Regions from separate parts of the Homo sapiens genome. Here region 1 is linked to region 2. A link means that fine-mapping ties the variant in region 2 to the expression of a gene that starts in the linked region. Tissue or cell type: whole blood. Region 2 holds a variant in brackets; the other region holds the start of a gene. All regions are shown on one strand. Distances are from middle to middle.

Evidence for each region. PIP is the estimated chance that this variant, and not a neighbour inherited with it, causes the effect.
Region 1: RARG starts here. The variant in region 2 is fine-mapped to the expression of RARG in whole blood (INTERVAL, PIP above 0.99).

Annotation. Positions count from the first base shown.
Region 1 is chr12:53,228,741-53,236,830 of GRCh38, forward strand. It overlaps RARG (retinoic acid receptor gamma), which reads right to left and starts at 3,469. Exons shown (of 10, transcript NM_000966.6): 1 at 3,234-3,469; 2 at 2,429-2,495. RefSeq lists silencers at 3,155-3,284, 3,605-3,654.
Region 2 is chr12:53,090,609-53,098,696 of GRCh38, forward strand. It overlaps IGFBP6 (insulin like growth factor binding protein 6), which reads left to right and starts at 7,059. Exons shown (of 4, transcript NM_002178.3): 1 at 7,059-7,443. The coding sequence starts at 7,110. RefSeq lists silencers at 7,367-7,446, 7,457-7,576. The variant G/A (reference allele first, on the strand shown) is at 5,063.

The sequences.
Region 1 (8,090 bases), 140 kb after region 2:
TGTTTATATTTTTAGTAGAGATGGGGTTTCTCCAGGTTGGTCAGGCTGGTCTCGAACTCCCAACCTCAGATGATCCGCCCACCTTGGCCTCTCAAAGTGCTGGGATTACAGGCGTGAGCGACACGCCCGGGCATTCTGCCTCCTTTTCTTTCTTATCCCTGGGCTCCCTGTTTCTAGGAAGTTCTCCCTGCAACCTCTCCTCCCCCAAAAGTAGGCTTCCCTCTAAGAGTTTAAACCTGAGCCCAGGGGAAGGGGAGGAGAAGGAGGTAGAGAGAGGAGATGGGAATCCTAGTGCTAAGTAGGTGGTTCCTATCTTCATCCCCTGACAAAGGAAAAGTTTGGCTTTCCTAGGAGCCCCAGAACTTCTCACCTCTCTAGGCAGTTAGTGGGCTAGGGAGGAAAAGTCACCCCAGCCTGGGTATCTCCACCAGTCAGAGCCATAACAGACTGCTATGAAGGGCAGAGAAGGGCCAAGAGACTAAAATGCAGAGAGACCATGGGGTGGGCAGGCCCAGAGGTAGGGGATGGGTATATCTGCCTTTCTTTCCATCAGTATTTGCTTCTAGGATGTATAGCTCTCAGTCTTTATACCTCTGGTTTTTATTTTTGTTTTTGCTTGTTTTTCTTTCTCTCCTCTACCTTGGCCTTCAAGCCCTTGAGGGTAAACTGTCATGGAGGTTACAAGAACCCAGACCCCAACGCCATCACATTTCACTCAGCCCTTATGAATGAAGCATCCCCTGCCCCTCACCATGGCACCACCCATACACCCAGCACCCTCAAACTCTTTAGCCCAGTGTCTTCGCAGGCCCTAAAAGTCTGAGCTCCAAGCCTCCAGGGTCCCTCTCCTTTTCCTTCTCCTATTCCCCTCCGAAGTTCTCATCCCTAGTTAAGCCCTGATGGAGCCAGGAGTTTGGGGGCCCCTGAGGCCCCTGGGCCACAGCTCAACTGGCCAGGCCACATTCCAGGTGGATTAACCCCTCCAATGACAAGGGTGAGAAGCTACTAGAGGACTCCCCCATCCCCATGTTCCCCAGACTTGGCTTAGACTGGGAACAGGGCTCTCTGCCTTAGCCCTCCTTGTCTTTGCTTCTCACCTACCAATGGGAAACACAGGCAGGTAGGGCAGTGGGGGTCCCCACAGAGGGATGCTCAGCTCCTGATCCTCACCAAGGAATGATGCTGCATGTGAGCCAATGAGAGTTGTCCTTGGCCTTCCTCTTATTTTGCCTCAGAGAAGGGACTTGGGAGTTGAGTGAAGAGAGGAAGGGGGTAGAGATTCCTCCCATTTCTGAGCCTTGGTTCTGTCGTGGCTGGGAAGAGAAGGGGAGGGTCTTAAACCCAGGGTAGGAGAATGGACTAAGGAATTGAAGGCAGTGCAGAGTAAAAGGAAGTCCTAAACTGAGGCCCCAGGTGCCTTGGTTCTTTGGGGGACTCATGGAAAGTAGAGAACATTCTTCCTCTACTAAGATGCCATCTCAAATGGTGGGGCAGCGGGGATGACAGACTAGGGGAGAGGGGCTCTTACAAAGCTGCTTCTCTTAGAGCTGAGGTGGAGTTGAGGGGAGGGCATGGATGAAGGGGGCTGCCGGATGGAGGGGGGTGTGTTTCCCTGTCGCCCTGCCCGCTCCAGAGCCTGGAACAAAGCTGCTCTTGTCGGCCACTCTCCACCCGCTGCCCCCCTCCCCTCTGTATAAACACGACCACCTTTTTCCATGACCCCATCTCCAGCCTGGGCAGAGAACCCAGGCATCCTCTGCTCTAGCCTGGGCCCCCAGCCTGCTCCCCAGGAGGCAGCAGTGGGCCAGGCTTCCTTGGCATTGTGCCATCCCTGGGGGAGTCCAGACCCTTGAGTCTCCACCTCTCATCCCCAGGTGCCCTCCCTCCACCCTACTAGCCCCAGGGAGGGGCAGTGCCCAGGAGGCAGGCAGGCAATGCCAGTGGAATGTGTGTGGGCATCAGAGGGCATGGACAGGGTGGGGCAGAGGGGGGAACTGGAGGTGCCAGTTAGGTGGCTTTCTGAGCCAGGGGTGGGGGTGTGCCGGGGTGTGGGGGGGCGTGCCCCATGCTGCCTACTAGGCTGTAGGCCACAGTGCGTGTGTGTGTGTGTGTGTGTGTGTGTGTGTGTGTGTGTGTGTGTGTATGTCTGTCTATATGGGATACCCAAGCTCCAGGCTCCCTGCACACACTACCCCCACTCCCCTGTCTTCTCTCTACTTGCCTCAAGGATATGAGATGCTGGCTATGGTCCTTGACCCCAACTCAGCATCTGACCCTAAGGGCAGAAGCCTCAGACTTGAGGATTGGGATTCCAGCTGCCCAGGACCAGAGCCCTAAAGCGGGACAGTCATCTCAGTTTCTTGCCCTGAAGACCTCCTACTCAGGCTCCCCTGCCCCCACCACCACTAACAACCAAGCATCTTCTTACCCGCTGGCCGCCTGCAGAGACTGGCTTCTACATACTGGGTCAGGTTGAGGGAACTGGGCCGTAGCTGCTAAAGACAGAGAGGCAGCGTCAGTGGAACTCTGGGACCAGCACTCCTGGGTCCCTGTCCCGGTCTTCCTGCTCTTTCTTTGTTCCATTTGGGCTTCCCTCAAGAATACTCCAGAGGTGCCCCCCACCTTGGCTGGAGGGAGCCAAGGCTCGCACCTGGGCTGGGAACGTGTGGGAGGGAATCCAGCGCTTCAAGGAAAGTTCACAGATCCCTATCCTATGCACCAGTCCTTCGGAACTCCTGGACGCGGAGGGCCAGGCTCACTTGCCTCTGGACGTTTTCCTTGCCTTCTGATGTCCAAGCTGTCCCATTCCACTGGGGAGGGAGGAACTTGGACCAGCATGGAACATCAAATCTACCCCTCAGAGCCCGGGGGTAAGGGGGTGGTAGTCTTTCCCCGCGAGAGGAAACCCTGTCTTCTCTCACATTCCCAGCACAAAAATATAAGGAGGAATGCCCCCTGGCTGAAGACTTCCCCAAATGCTGTCCTCTGCTATGCACCAAAATGAAGGGCAGATGACCCAGCCCATCCTCAGCCTGTTAAAATCTTCCCCATTCCCTTCCCACAGCAGGACTGGCCTGGGTCGGGGCAAGAAGCCCCCCTCAAGCCCGGCGGCCAGCCTGGCCAGCCTCGGGAGGGCATTCGCCCGTGCAGCTCCTCCGCGCCCCCTCCCCCAGCCGCCTCGCCGGAGGACCCAGGCGACGGGGCGGGCGAGCCTGCTTCCCCGCCTGACTCACCTGGAGTGGGAGGGGGAAGGGAGGCGGCGGAGCCCCGAGGTCCCGGCGTCGGGCAGTCTCTTGGATGGAGCGTCGCAATGTCCGGGGCTCGCCGTACTGGGGGGCTCCTGGGGGGGCACGGCTCTAGGCTGGGACTGTCCCGGGGCCTCTCGGAGCCCGCCCGCCCACGTGACCGCCCCAAAATATCCGACACATTTTCTCCCAAACCGCACACTGACTCTGCAGGCGGGGACACGGAAAATATTTTCTTTCTTTTTCTCCCTCCCCACCCCCCCCCCAACCTCCCTCCCTGCCCAACTCCCTCCTCCCCCTCCCGCCCTCGCTCCTCCCTCCCCTGCCTGCCCCTGCCCGGCTCCCTCCTCTGTGCCCTGGGGCTGGGGGGCGGAGGGATGGGTGGGCGGGAGGGGGACTGGGCGGGGCGGCCCGGGACGCCTGGGTCTCTGCCCTTCCCATTTGCTAGGCTTCCGTGACTCCATCCTCTGGGAGGCCGGGCACGGCTGGCAGAGGAGGTCAGTGTCCTGGCCCCGTGATGCCAACCTTTTCTCTCTGGCACTTTTCTCCTTTCTGCCTTTTGGGGGGACTAGTTGAGTTGTCTGTGGCCAGGCTGTGACTCTTGCGAGGCCAGTCTCTGGCGCCTCCCCAGGGTAGGCAATGGGGCGGTACCCACTCCCTCCCAGTGCTGGATTGGCCGGGCAGGAGTATGCCAGATCTAGAATAGATGCTCCTGCCCTTACTCTTTGCTCAGCCTTCACCTGCAGATCCAAGTAGCCTCTCCCTTCCCCTAGCCCACCTCAGTCCTTTGGTCCCAGGAGCAAACTGGTTGACTAGTGGCTGTTGCTGGGGGTGCTGAGGCCAGGGCTCACAGACATCTTCCCTGTCATCTTGCCTGGAGTAAGCTCCAGGAGTTAGGGCGCCTGGGTCCCTGGCTGCCAGTTGTCCCCCACCTTTAGGCCTGGATTTGGAAGGGGAGAGGCTGGAGAGGAGGGCAGGAGGAACTGTGGCTGGGAGTGGGAGGAGCCTTGGGCTGGGTGTGAGAGAGAAAGCCCAGGCAGAGGGTGTGTGTCTGCCCTAGCCAGCACCGGCCTGCCTGCCTGCCTGCCTGGTAGATGTGCCATGAATGCTGTTGACTCCGGGTGTGTGTGTGTGTGCGTGTGTGTGTGTGTGTGTCTGTGCAAGCGCGTGCGCATGCCAGTGCCGAGAGTGAGTGTCTGTGTCTGATGGGGGCATTATCTGCTTCAACATAGACAGACTCTCAACCCTAGAGTGAGAGAACCCAGTGGTTTCACTCTGCATTCTACTGAGGACAGAGGGAGAGAAAAGAATGGGTCTGCAGTCCAAGCTCTGTGCACGGATCCCAAACACTCCCATGGGGACTGGAGTTGGGAGGGAGAAAGAGGAGAAGGGGAGAGTCTGAGCTAGGCTGATAGGCTGGACAGACATACCCAAAGTACCTTCCCCAGCAATGCTCGCAGGGTGACCAGGACCTGGGACACAGACTCCTGGGTCACGTCACATTTTCCATACTGGAATTACTTGGCTTTGTCCTTGCTCCCCCCTGGGGGCCAGGTGTCCTCCCTCCTGGGAAAGGCTGCTTTTGGTAGCCAAAGTCAGGTGAAGGAGATGGGGGAAAGAAGAGGCATGCTGTGGTTACCTCAGGGAATGGGAGATGGCAATGGGGGTGCAGACAAGCCCTCTCTTTCACTCCAGGGATAGGAAGAGCTAGGAATAGATACTCCAGGGTCCCGTCCCCAGGTGGCCTAGCTGCTGTTGACTTTGCTTGGTTACCCTGGGAGCAGCTCTCAGCAGTGTGGGAGGGGCGGGTGTCAGGGAGTTGGACCCAGGCGTCCAGGCTGGGGTGGGATGGCGCCCCGCCTGTGTGGCAGGGCTCCTGCCAAGAGGCTGCAAAGTTAACCCCTCCTGCCCTGCCCTAGTGGTGGCTGGTGGGAGGAGGGCGGGCCCAGTTGTGGTTTGGGAATGTGGCCCTAATTTCCCCCTCCCCCTTCCAGCACATCTGTACTTGGTTTACAGTGAATGAGCCTCCTGTCCTCATGAACCAGGCAAGGGCACCACTCCCTCCTTGGCCAGGCATTCTGACACAGAACCAGGCACCACCCGTGACACTCTCCTCTCCCTGCTGAGTATCATCTCTCTGAACTCTTCCCTTCTCCTTCTGTAGAGGGGCTTAGGGTTGGTCCCAAAGATCTACAGCTGGAGCTCTGAGACAGTGCATCTAGGTAGCAAATGGGGCCAGGGAAGCCTAAATCGGGGGACAAAACACTTGGGGTAGCCTCTGAAAACAGAGGGAGTCAGAATTCCAACTGTCTCTGCCCTCCCTTTGTCTTGGTTTGTCTGTCTGTCTGCCCGGGTCTTTGTCTCTGGTGGGCGTTTGTCTATCCATCCGTCTTGGTAACTGTAGCTCCTCCCTTCTGGCGGCCTCCTCGTCCCCAGCCGACGACAGCAGCCAAGCAGCGATGCCCAGGAAGACCCGCCCTATGCCGGCCCCTCCCCTTGGGATTGCCACTGCTTCCACCCCCGCCCCCTCTACCGCCCCTCCCCAGGACCCAGTGACTGGGGTCTGTTCACTGCAGCAGTTTGGAAGTCAAACCAAACAGCAGCAGCAGATTGGGGGACAGGGAAGAGGGGCATTGTGAGGGCTTCAGATTCTTCTCCCCACCCTCCACTCCCCAGCTTGCAACAGAGCCAGCTTTCTGTCCAGAGATTCCAGGAGGAGGCTTGGGAAGAGGGCTTCCCACTCTGGAAACTGGTGGAGGGGGCTCCCCTCATTCCTCTTTCCCTTGGGTCATCCCTATTTCTAGGCTTTGCTCTGTTTGTGGCTGCTCTACTTTGTCACCCTGGCAACTTGGAGAAATGATATCTTGGGGGCCCTAGTACCAGGCTTTGTTTGCTCCCCTCATCCCAGAGCAAAGACCAAAAGGAGAGATTATGAGGAGAGGAAAAGGATGCAGATATCTGTCCCACCTGTCCTGAAAGTCATGGGGAAATGACTTATTCAGTGCCCTGATGCTGGGGGGGCGGACAGTGGTGAGGATGAAAATTGCCCCACCCTAATTTTCACCCTCACCCCCTCCCAACCCTCCGGCATCAGGACACTGAATAGGTCATTTCCCCATGCCCAAATCTGGTGGTGTGGGGGATGTCCTATGCCATGCTCAGAGGTGTCTGGCAGATGACTATAGGGGGTGGTGGGGGAGCTGTGTTGCAGCCCCCAAAGACATCATTAAGGCATGGAAGTGCTGTCAGGGCTTGGGGACCAGGGCACCCAGGGAGAGCGTGATGAAAACATGTTTTGTACAACACGTGTCCTCTCTTTTCCCTTCCTCCTCTCCTCTCCCACCTCCTCCCCCTAGGCAAGCTCTGTGCCAGTGCTGGTGCCAGCCCTGCCTCTGGTGCTTGCTCCACTCCATCCCTTGTACTAGGCCTATTCTGCTGCTTGCCAGCTCGTTGACTCTCCTGGTGAGGGAGTTTGTGTGTAGAAGGTCCTTACCAGCCCCAGTGCTGCCCAGATCCCCACATAGAATAAGGACTTAATTTTGAAGCTCAGGATTTTAGGATTAGCCTAAACACCTCTGGGAATTTCTTCCCTGAACAGGCACCATGCATTAATTCAACAAATCTTTATTAGGCATCCACTATGTGATAAGCACTGTGCTAGGTTCTGGGAATACCCAGGTATGGTCCCTGGCAAGTTCACAGTCGGATGGAGTCAGTTGTTAACCAAATAATCCACAAAACTGCAACTAGAATAATCAGTGTGGAGAGGCATGAGGGACCATGAGAATGGAGCAGAGGAGTATTCTCCGCCAAGGAGATCAGGAAAGTCTTCGGAGAAAAAATGAGGGAGATTAGAGAGAAGGAAGGGCAGTGAAATATATGTGCTGCTCAAGAGTATGTGCAAAGGCCCTGGAATTGATGTCCTGGCCCTCAGCCAGTCTGCTCCCCCTGCCCCCAAAAAAGAGGGGCCTTCCATTCCTGTGACGTGCTTGGATTTCAATATGCCAAAAGGGAGGGATGGTAAGTACCTCCTTGTGGTCATAGCAGGACGCTGAGATACCTGAATGCATTCATTTCCTCCAGAAAGGGAAACAGAGACAGAGAGGGAAGACGACTCACAGGCTGAGACTTGAGATTATACTATGGAAAACAAGGCCCCATGCTGGCAAATCCTCCAGGGTGAGGGATTCCTGCATTTGCCCAGCTGGAGCCTCACCAGACAGAAGGCCTTCTCCTCTGAGCCTGCTCTACCATGCCCCCACTCCCCCGATCCAGCCCTGACCTGTCCCACTCCCTGGAGCTAGCACGTCTGCCTCCACAGTTGCCTGGAGTGTGTGTGAGGCGAGTGCTACAGGTGTCTGCCAGCCAGTGTGTGGGTGGATGTAGCTGTCTGTTTTGCACAGAATCTCCATCCAGGGGATACGGGGTTCTCTTTCCCCTGTCCACTGGAGAGCTTCCAATTCCTCCTACCCAGACACAAAAGTTCCAAGTCTCTTCCTTTTGAAAAGGAATTGGGGGCCCCTTGAAAGAGGGAGCAGACCTCTTTGTGACTGTGCCTCCTCTAGAGCCAGCAAAGAGGTCATGGAACCAATGGGGTTAAGTCCCAGCCCTGCTGTGACCCACTTTCCTCCCTGTGCCCACATCCCCTGGGGCCAGAGTGTTGGGTGGGGCCAGCCTGGCACCCCCACACCCACACCTGGGACTTCCCCTGGATGGAAACTCCCAGAACCCAGGCATCCTGCTTCCCCTGCCAACTCCCACCAACTGCCTGGGTTCTATTCAGCTTCAGTTAGATCTCCCTGTCTGCCAGCCTTTGACCAAACTACATCTGTGCTCCAGCCCACC
Region 2 (8,088 bases):
TTTGTGGGTACTTTCTTACTTTCTAGTGCTACAAGATGCTCTAGATCATCTATTTTCCCTGCCCCAAACCCAGAATCAGCCAGTTCTCCAAAAAATGGAGAAACGTTCTTCCTTTTTTGGAGAATGGTATTTAGAAACCAAGATCTAGCTGTGAGATATGCTACTGTTATTGTAGTGTCATTTCTTCTAGGCCCTCTGGGGCAACAGAGTTAGGTAACACATGTATGTATACTAACCATGTGCATATAGGTATCTATAATCGTTTCTGTATCTAGTCATCTGACTATATATTAAGCTAAATACAAGTTCACACTGCTGTCTCCCATTCTAACCCAGTACCACAGAGTTCATTATATAGCCTTGTGGATCTGTGACTTCTCCCTCTGACAGTGAGAAACCTGGCTCCCAACATTCATTACTTATTTGTTCAACCCCAATATATATGTAAAGCACTTTCAAAATTTTTAACCCATACTCCAATGAGAAACAGATGTACCAGTTACAGTACAGTGTTTCTGTAAAGTGCATTCTTCTTTTTGTTTTTAGCCTTTGAGAGTTTCCAGTGAAAACACTGTTTTCCAAAGTTACTTAGGTCAGCTCCTTTTCTTCTCACCCTCCTCAGTGTGTGTGTCATAAATGTGTAATATAATTAGATTAATTTGTCACAGTCTGCATTCTATCCCAGAATACCCTGGCATCCTGGCTGATTTTCTCAGTTGTTTATCGTATGTTGGATAAACAGATATTAGCACTAAGTTCTCTGGGAGCACAATTCCTACTTATGTCCATATCTCCCAGTTACATCTACATAAATAGGTGCCCTATGAATCCATTGAATGACTGAATATACTTTTATTCATTTAAATATTTTAAAAAGCAAGACGCAGGTCCTTAGTTGCTCCTTTTTGTTCACTAATGATTCCCAACTCCCAATCATCTGGCTGGCTCCAGCCCAGTCTAGAAAAGTCTTGTTCCCTTTCCAGCTCTCCTTCCTCTGATGTACCGAAACACTGGGGACCCAGGTGGAGCACACATGCACACACACACATCAACACGCATATGCTGTTTTGCTCTCCCTGCCCTTTTACCTTTACAACTGTTACACAAAGATGTGCTTTCCTCCTTGGGATGCCTTCACCATCCCCTCTCTTCATCCCTATCCATCTCTTCTCCCAAACTCTCTTGTAAAGCCCTGTTCCCTGGGAAGTCCTGTTTGATTTACCCTCGGGGCAGTTTTCCCTCTCCTGACAGCACTCTGGGCCTCTCAGACTATTGGCCTTTACCTGAGAGCAGGGAGAAGATGAAGAAAAGAGAGAGGAAGCGCTGAAGGGGTGGGAGGGCCAAGAGAGCTCCTGGAGTAGGCTGGGCTAGCGCCTAGGTCCAGGAGGATGGCGGAGCCTCCAGAAGTGTTGCAGTATCTCCGTCACCTCTCTGTCCCTCCCCCAGGACTGCCTTTGCTCCCACCAAAAACACCGATATTTCCTGGTGTCTATTCTAAAGTCCTTCTATGGGCTGGAAGCTGGAGGCCCAGAGATAAAAAAGGAATGGGGGCCCTATTCTCAAAACACCCACAATCTAACTGGAAAAATGATGCAGGAAAAGAGGAGCAAAAATATAAAATAGCAACACAATAATGTGGATGAATTAAAAGGAAGGCAGGGTGTCAACTGGCCAAGTAGGTGAGGAAGAGGTGCCAGAATTTGGTTAATGATGGGCTAGGTGTGGTGTCTCATGCCTGTAATCCCAGTACTTTGGGAGGCTGAGGTGGGAGGATCACTTGAGTCTAGGAGCTCAAGCTCCTATATTGTCCAGCCTGGACAATATAATAATAAGATCCTGTCTATATAAAATACTTTTTTTTCTTTTTTGAGGGGGGTTTCGCTCTCGTTGCACAGGCTGGAGTACAATGGTGTGATCTCAGCTCACTGCAACCTCCGCCTCCTGGGTTTAAGCAATTCTCCTTCCTCAGCCTCCCAAGTAGCTGGGATTACAGGCATGCGCCATCATGCCAGGCTAATTTTTTTGTATTTTTAGTAGAGACGAGGTTTCACCATGTTGGTTTCACCAGGCTGGTTTCGAATTCCTGACCTCAGGTGATCTGCCCACCTCGGCCTCCCAAAGTGCTGGGATTACAGGCGTGAGTAAGCACACCTGGCCTAAAAAATTAAAAAATTAGCCAGATGTGGTGGTGCGTGGCTGTGGTCCCAACTACTCTGGAGGCTGAAATGGAAGGATTACTTGAGCCCATGAGGTTGAGGCTGCAGTGAGCTGTGACTGAGCCACTGCACTCCAGCCTGGGTGACAGAGTGAGACCCTGTTTCAAAAAAAAAAGAATGTGGCTAGTGATGAGGGGAGTGAAGGGAGGGTCCTTGTAAGCTGAAAGCTTGGAGTTCAGGGGAAGAAATGATCTCTGAGCACCAATTATGCCTCATCCTCATTTCCCCTTATCCCATTTCAATCCCCAAGATGAGAAACTACCAGGGGGTTCTGGGGAAGGTGATTCAGCCAGCTAACTGAAGCAGAGTGTGTTTCAGGGTCATTGTCTACGGGACCCTGAATGTCAGGTGGAGCACAGGTTCTATGGTAGGGGAGGACATCGAGGAATAACACACACCGGGACCTGTGGGGTCGGGGGGCAAGGGGAGGGAGAGCATCAGATCAAATAGCTAAGGCATGTGGGGTTTAATACATAAATATATGGACTGGGCATGGTGGCTTATGCCTGTAATCCCAGCATTTTGAGAGGCTGAGGCGGGCAGATCATGAGGTCAGGAGTTGGAGACCAGCATGATCAACATGGTGAAACCTCGTCTCTACTAAAAATACAAAAATTAGCCGGGCACGGTGGCACGTGGCTGTAATCCCAGCTACTCAGGAGGCTGAGGCAGGAGAATCACCTGAACCCAGGAGGCAGAGGTTGCAGTGAGCCGAGTTCGCGTCACTGCACTCCAACCTGGGCGACAGAGCCAGACTCCGTCTCAAAAAAAACGAAAAACAAAAAACATAAATACATAAGTGATGGATTGATAGGTGCAGCAAACCACTGTGGCACATGTTTACCTATGTAACAAACCTGCACATTCTGCACATACATCCCAGAACTTAAAGTAAAATTTAAAAACCAAGAAATAAAAAGTAAAGTGCCCCCGAAATCCTTGAGGAGAAGAGAATTATGGGATCAGGAGCACATTTCAGCAGGACCAGTTTGGATGGTATGTGTGGGAGAGATGGCAGAAAACAGAGGCTGCAGGTTAGCTGAGGTTTACACAGTAGTTCCCATCAGGCCCACGTCAGCCTTAGGCCATGTCATGATGTGATGTGGTCATTGAACTTCCTCTCTGGGACTTTCTGTCTGTGGACTGTGCCACTGTTTCTCGTCTCAAATTTAAAGCTGAATATGGTCCAGGCAGGCCCCTTCCTTTATCCCTTGTTCTCAAAAGGAAGTCAGCACTTGGGGCACCATGAATTTAGAGGGACGGGTTGAGTGTGAGAGACACAGCATGAAGGATCAGAAAACCAGGGTATAATGTAGATGCGGAGGAGGAAGTTCCAGTAGAGTTTGTTTATGGAAAAGCTTAAGTGATAGCCCAAGCTATTTAGCCTTTCCTCAGCCTGGAAGAAACTTCTCAGCAAACCCTTCTCACACAAAGGCCAGACAGAATCCGACAGTTTTGTACCTTGGCCCACACTCTTGGTCTGAGTGCTGAACATGTGCTTCAGATTTCTGCCCTGGGTACTAAGGCAGAGGGCATCCCAATGGCAGGAAGGCAGAGTTCAAGCGTCTCAGTCTGCAAAGAGACCGGTTAGACCCTCAGTGCTGATGGCCATACAACTGGGGATCATGCTAGAGGGAGGGGGAAACAGGGAAGTGTAATCCTGGGGTGGTGGGTGGAACTGGACTGTGCAATCGGGCTTAGAATCTAGAAAGTAACAGCTGGGCAGGTGGGAGCGGCAGGCAGGGAGAATCTGAGGCAGTGGTAGCAGCGTGGGAAGCGGGGGCTGGAAATTGAGGAGGGTTGAGGAGGGAGTGGTGGATGTTAGAAGCTGGCAAAGTGTTGGGCTTTTTCTGAACGATAACCTACAAAGGAGTAGCACAGCCTTTTTTTTTTTTTTTTTTTTTTTTTTTTTTTTTTCTTTGAGACAGGGTCTCACTCTGGTTGTTCCAGGCTGGAGTGCAGTGGTGTGATCTTGGCTCATCCCTTCCACCTTAGCCTCCTAGGTAGCTGGGACTAAAGGCATGCACCACCACATCTGGCTGATATTTTGTATTTTTAGTAGAGATGGGGCTTGGTCATGTTGCCCAGGCTGGTCTGGAACTCCTGGGCTCAATTGATCCTCCCACCTTGGCCTCCCAGAGTGCTGGGATTACAGGCATGAATCACTATGACAAACATCTTTAAAGAGCCACATCAATCTGGGTGCAGTGGCTCACACCTATAATTCCAGAACTCTGGGAGGCCAAGGCGGAAGGATCACTTGAGCCCAGGAGTTCCAGACCAGCCTGGGCAACATGTCGAAACCCCCTCTCTGCTAAAAATACAATTAGCCAGGCGTGGTGGTGTGTGCCTGTAGTCCCAGCTACCTGGGAGGCTAAGGTGGGAGGATCTTCTGAGCCCAGGAGGTCAAGGTTACAGTGAGCCGTGATGGAGTCACTGCACTCCAGCCTGGGAAATAAAATGAGAACCTGCCTCAAAAAAAAAAAAAATCTAGAACCAGACCAGAAATACCATTTGACCCAACGATCCCATTACTGGGTATATACCCAAAGGAATATAAATCATTCTATTATAAAAATACATGCACATGTATGTTTATTGCAGCACTATTCACAATAGCAAAGACATAGAACCAACCCAAATGCATGGAATACTATGCAGCCATAAAAAGGAATGTGATAATGTCCTCTGCAGGGACATGGATGAAGCTGGAAGCCATCATTCTCAGCAAACTAACACAGGAACAGAAAACCAAACACTACATGTTCTCACTTATAAGTGGGGGCTGAAAACAATGAGAAAACATGGACACAGGGAGGGGAACAACACACACTGGGGCCTGTGGC[G/A]GGGTAGGGGCTAGGGGAGGGAGAGCATCAGGTCAAATAGCTAATGTATGCGGGACTTAATACCTAGGTGTTGGGTTGACGGGCAGCAAACCACATGGCACATGTTTACCTATGTAACAAACCTGCACATTCTGCACATGTATCCCAGAACTTAAAATAAAATAAAATAAAATTTAAATTTAAAAAAGAGCCACACTGGGATCCTGCAAGAGCACAGCCATCTCTTTCCCCTTCCCAACTTCCCACAGGCTTTCCATCTTATTCAGGAGCACCAACCCGAAGTCCAGGAGAAAGACCCTAAGACCCTAGCCAGAACCATGTGTAGGACAAAATAAATAGTGATAAAGGGTGTGCAGCAGGACCCCAGTACTCTGGAACCCATCTCTGACAGCCTTGGTTCCAGGGAGCTTGGTCAGAGCTTGTGGCAGGGGGTTGAAGAGCCTTGGTGGAAGGGGTGCTTTCTCTCACCCCTTTCCCAATTTTGCCCTTCCTCTCCTCTGCCCTGGTCTACTTCTCCCATCAGCAGTAGCTTCTCCCATCAGCTGCCCCACAACCCTCTCCTCCCTGCCTCTCCAGTCTGCATCAGTATCTCAGGGAAACAGGAAAACACCATTCTCCAAACACATGTCCTAGGGTCCCAGGGTTGCATGGCGAAGCGGGCTGTGCTGACAATGAGGTTCGTATTATTTCTATTTACCTAAAAGTTCAAGAAGGCCTTGCTGACATTGTTGCTTGGGGCCCAGCATTTAAACTTAGTCACTGCCCAGAGCCCTTGTTTTAGGAAAGAATGAGATGGTCCCTGTTGCATAACCCAGAGTTGGGTGGGTGTGGGTTGCCGAAGGAAACAATCCCTCTTCCTCTCTCTTGTGAGGCCTGGCTAGGAGTGCCTGGGATGGGCGGGACACTGCCTGGGGAAGGCGGGTGGGGAGCGGTGGAACCCGACCCTTGGAGCGAAGGCGGACAAGTAGGTAGGCAAAGATGCTGAGTAGTCCCTCCCCAAAGTCCCCTGGGCACAAGACAGTCTGATGAATCTAGAAAACCCCATGGATGACTGGGAGGGAAGGAAACGGATTCTGGGAGAGGAGAGGAATGGAGGAGCGAGCTTACCTGAAGGACGGGGATGGGGAGGGGGGTGGGGTCTGCTCTCTGGCCACTGTCCCCAAGAGCATCCCGAATACGAGTTCCTTTAATTCTCTCCCTCTCTAGTTTCAACCTGCCAATTTCCCCCTTTCCCTGCCTCCCAGCCAGTTCTCACCCTGCACACAGCCCTCTCCAATCCTTCCAGACTCCGCATGCGCCCACCACAATGCTAGGGTCTCCTACGGTTCATTCAAGTTGTATCCCTCCCTGCCTCCCGGCCCTTCCCCCATTGGCTTACCCCAGTCTGGTTCCCCTCGGGCCCCTTTTCTCCATAGTCTTACCTCAAGGGTGCTTTCTCTTACTCCTTTCCCAATTTTGCCCTTCCTCTCCTCTGCCCTGTTCTACTTCTCCCATCAGCAGTAGAATTTCCCAAGACCCCGTTATCCACCCTCTCCATCTTTTCTCTGTCCCTCCACATTTGCCCACTCCTCTTGTGATCCACACACACCATCTCTTCTCAGTTCCCTTTCAGCCCCCGTCTTCTCACTCCCCACCGGGTCCCTGCATGCCCCTCGTCGTCCTACACATACACACTAAGTGGATTGCACTCCCGTCCTCCCCTTCTTCCGCTCCTCCCCACCCTCCAGTCCCTCCAGCCAGCTGTACAGCTCCCAAATTCCGGGCCGAGATTCCCGGGAACAAAGCAAGAAAAATCAGAGCAATTTGGGAAGTAAACAGAAACTGGAAAGGGAGAGGGAAAGAAGAGTGGGGAGGACCCAGGTTGGGGGGGCCCTCTCCAGTCCCACCCAGTTTAGGGAATGCCCCTGCCCTCTCCCCCACCCCCCTTCACCTGGCTCTTAAAGGGCCCGGCCCCTGGCCGGCGGCTACTTAAGACAGAGGGGCGGCGGCGGGCAGCAGCTGCGCTGCGACTGCTCTGGAAGGAGAGGACGGGGCACAAACCCTGACCATGACCCCCCACAGGCTGCTGCCACCGCTGCTGCTGCTGCTAGCTCTGCTGCTCGCTGCCAGCCCAGGAGGCGCCTTGGCGCGGTGCCCAGGCTGCGGGCAAGGGGTGCAGGCGGGTTGTCCAGGGGGCTGCGTGGAGGAGGAGGATGGGGGGTCGCCAGCCGAGGGCTGCGCGGAAGCTGAGGGCTGTCTCAGGAGGGAGGGGCAGGAGTGCGGGGTCTACACCCCTAACTGCGCCCCAGGACTGCAGTGCCATCCGCCCAAGGACGACGAGGCGCCTTTGCGGGCGCTGCTGCTCGGCCGAGGCCGCTGCCTTCCGGCCCGCGCGCCTGCTGGTGAGTCCGCGCCCCGCCCCTGCCCCGCCCACGTGAGACCCGCGTCCTCCAGGCAGGGTCCTGGGGAGACGGGAGTGGGTGGCCCGGCAAGCCTTTCCGCCCTGGCCCTTGACGCTTCCGACTTTGGGGGGCACATTTGTGTGGGGGAGAAGGGGCAAGTGCAGGAAGCTGAGGTGCAGCCAGGGGACCTGGTGATACAGCAGAAGGTGTCTGCGCTCTCGGCCTTCTTTTTTGCTCCATTTATTTTCCCTTGATGGAGTGTGCGTGCAGGTGGGAACTTGGGGGAGGCAGGGGGAGAAATGGGAGGGTTTTAGGGCCATCCCATGGGCTCCAGCAGGCCCAGCTCCTACAACCCTAGACGGCCAAGCTGGGGAAAGGACCCAAATGTTGTTCTCAGCTTCCACTTGGAGAAAAGGGGAGGGGAACCCCAGACTCTGAAATTCTGCACACACTGAGAAATGACTCCTTTCCTCCTAATACCGGTGTTCGAAGCACCTAAACAGGAGGCGTCTAGAACCGAAGAGGCCCCAAATCCAGGGTTGTATTAGACTTGAGTAGGGACTGAGGGCAGGCTAGGGCGTAGGTTAGGGGAGAGGGGAGAAAGAGTAGGGGAAAGAGGGAATCTGCCAAATCAGGGTTATGATT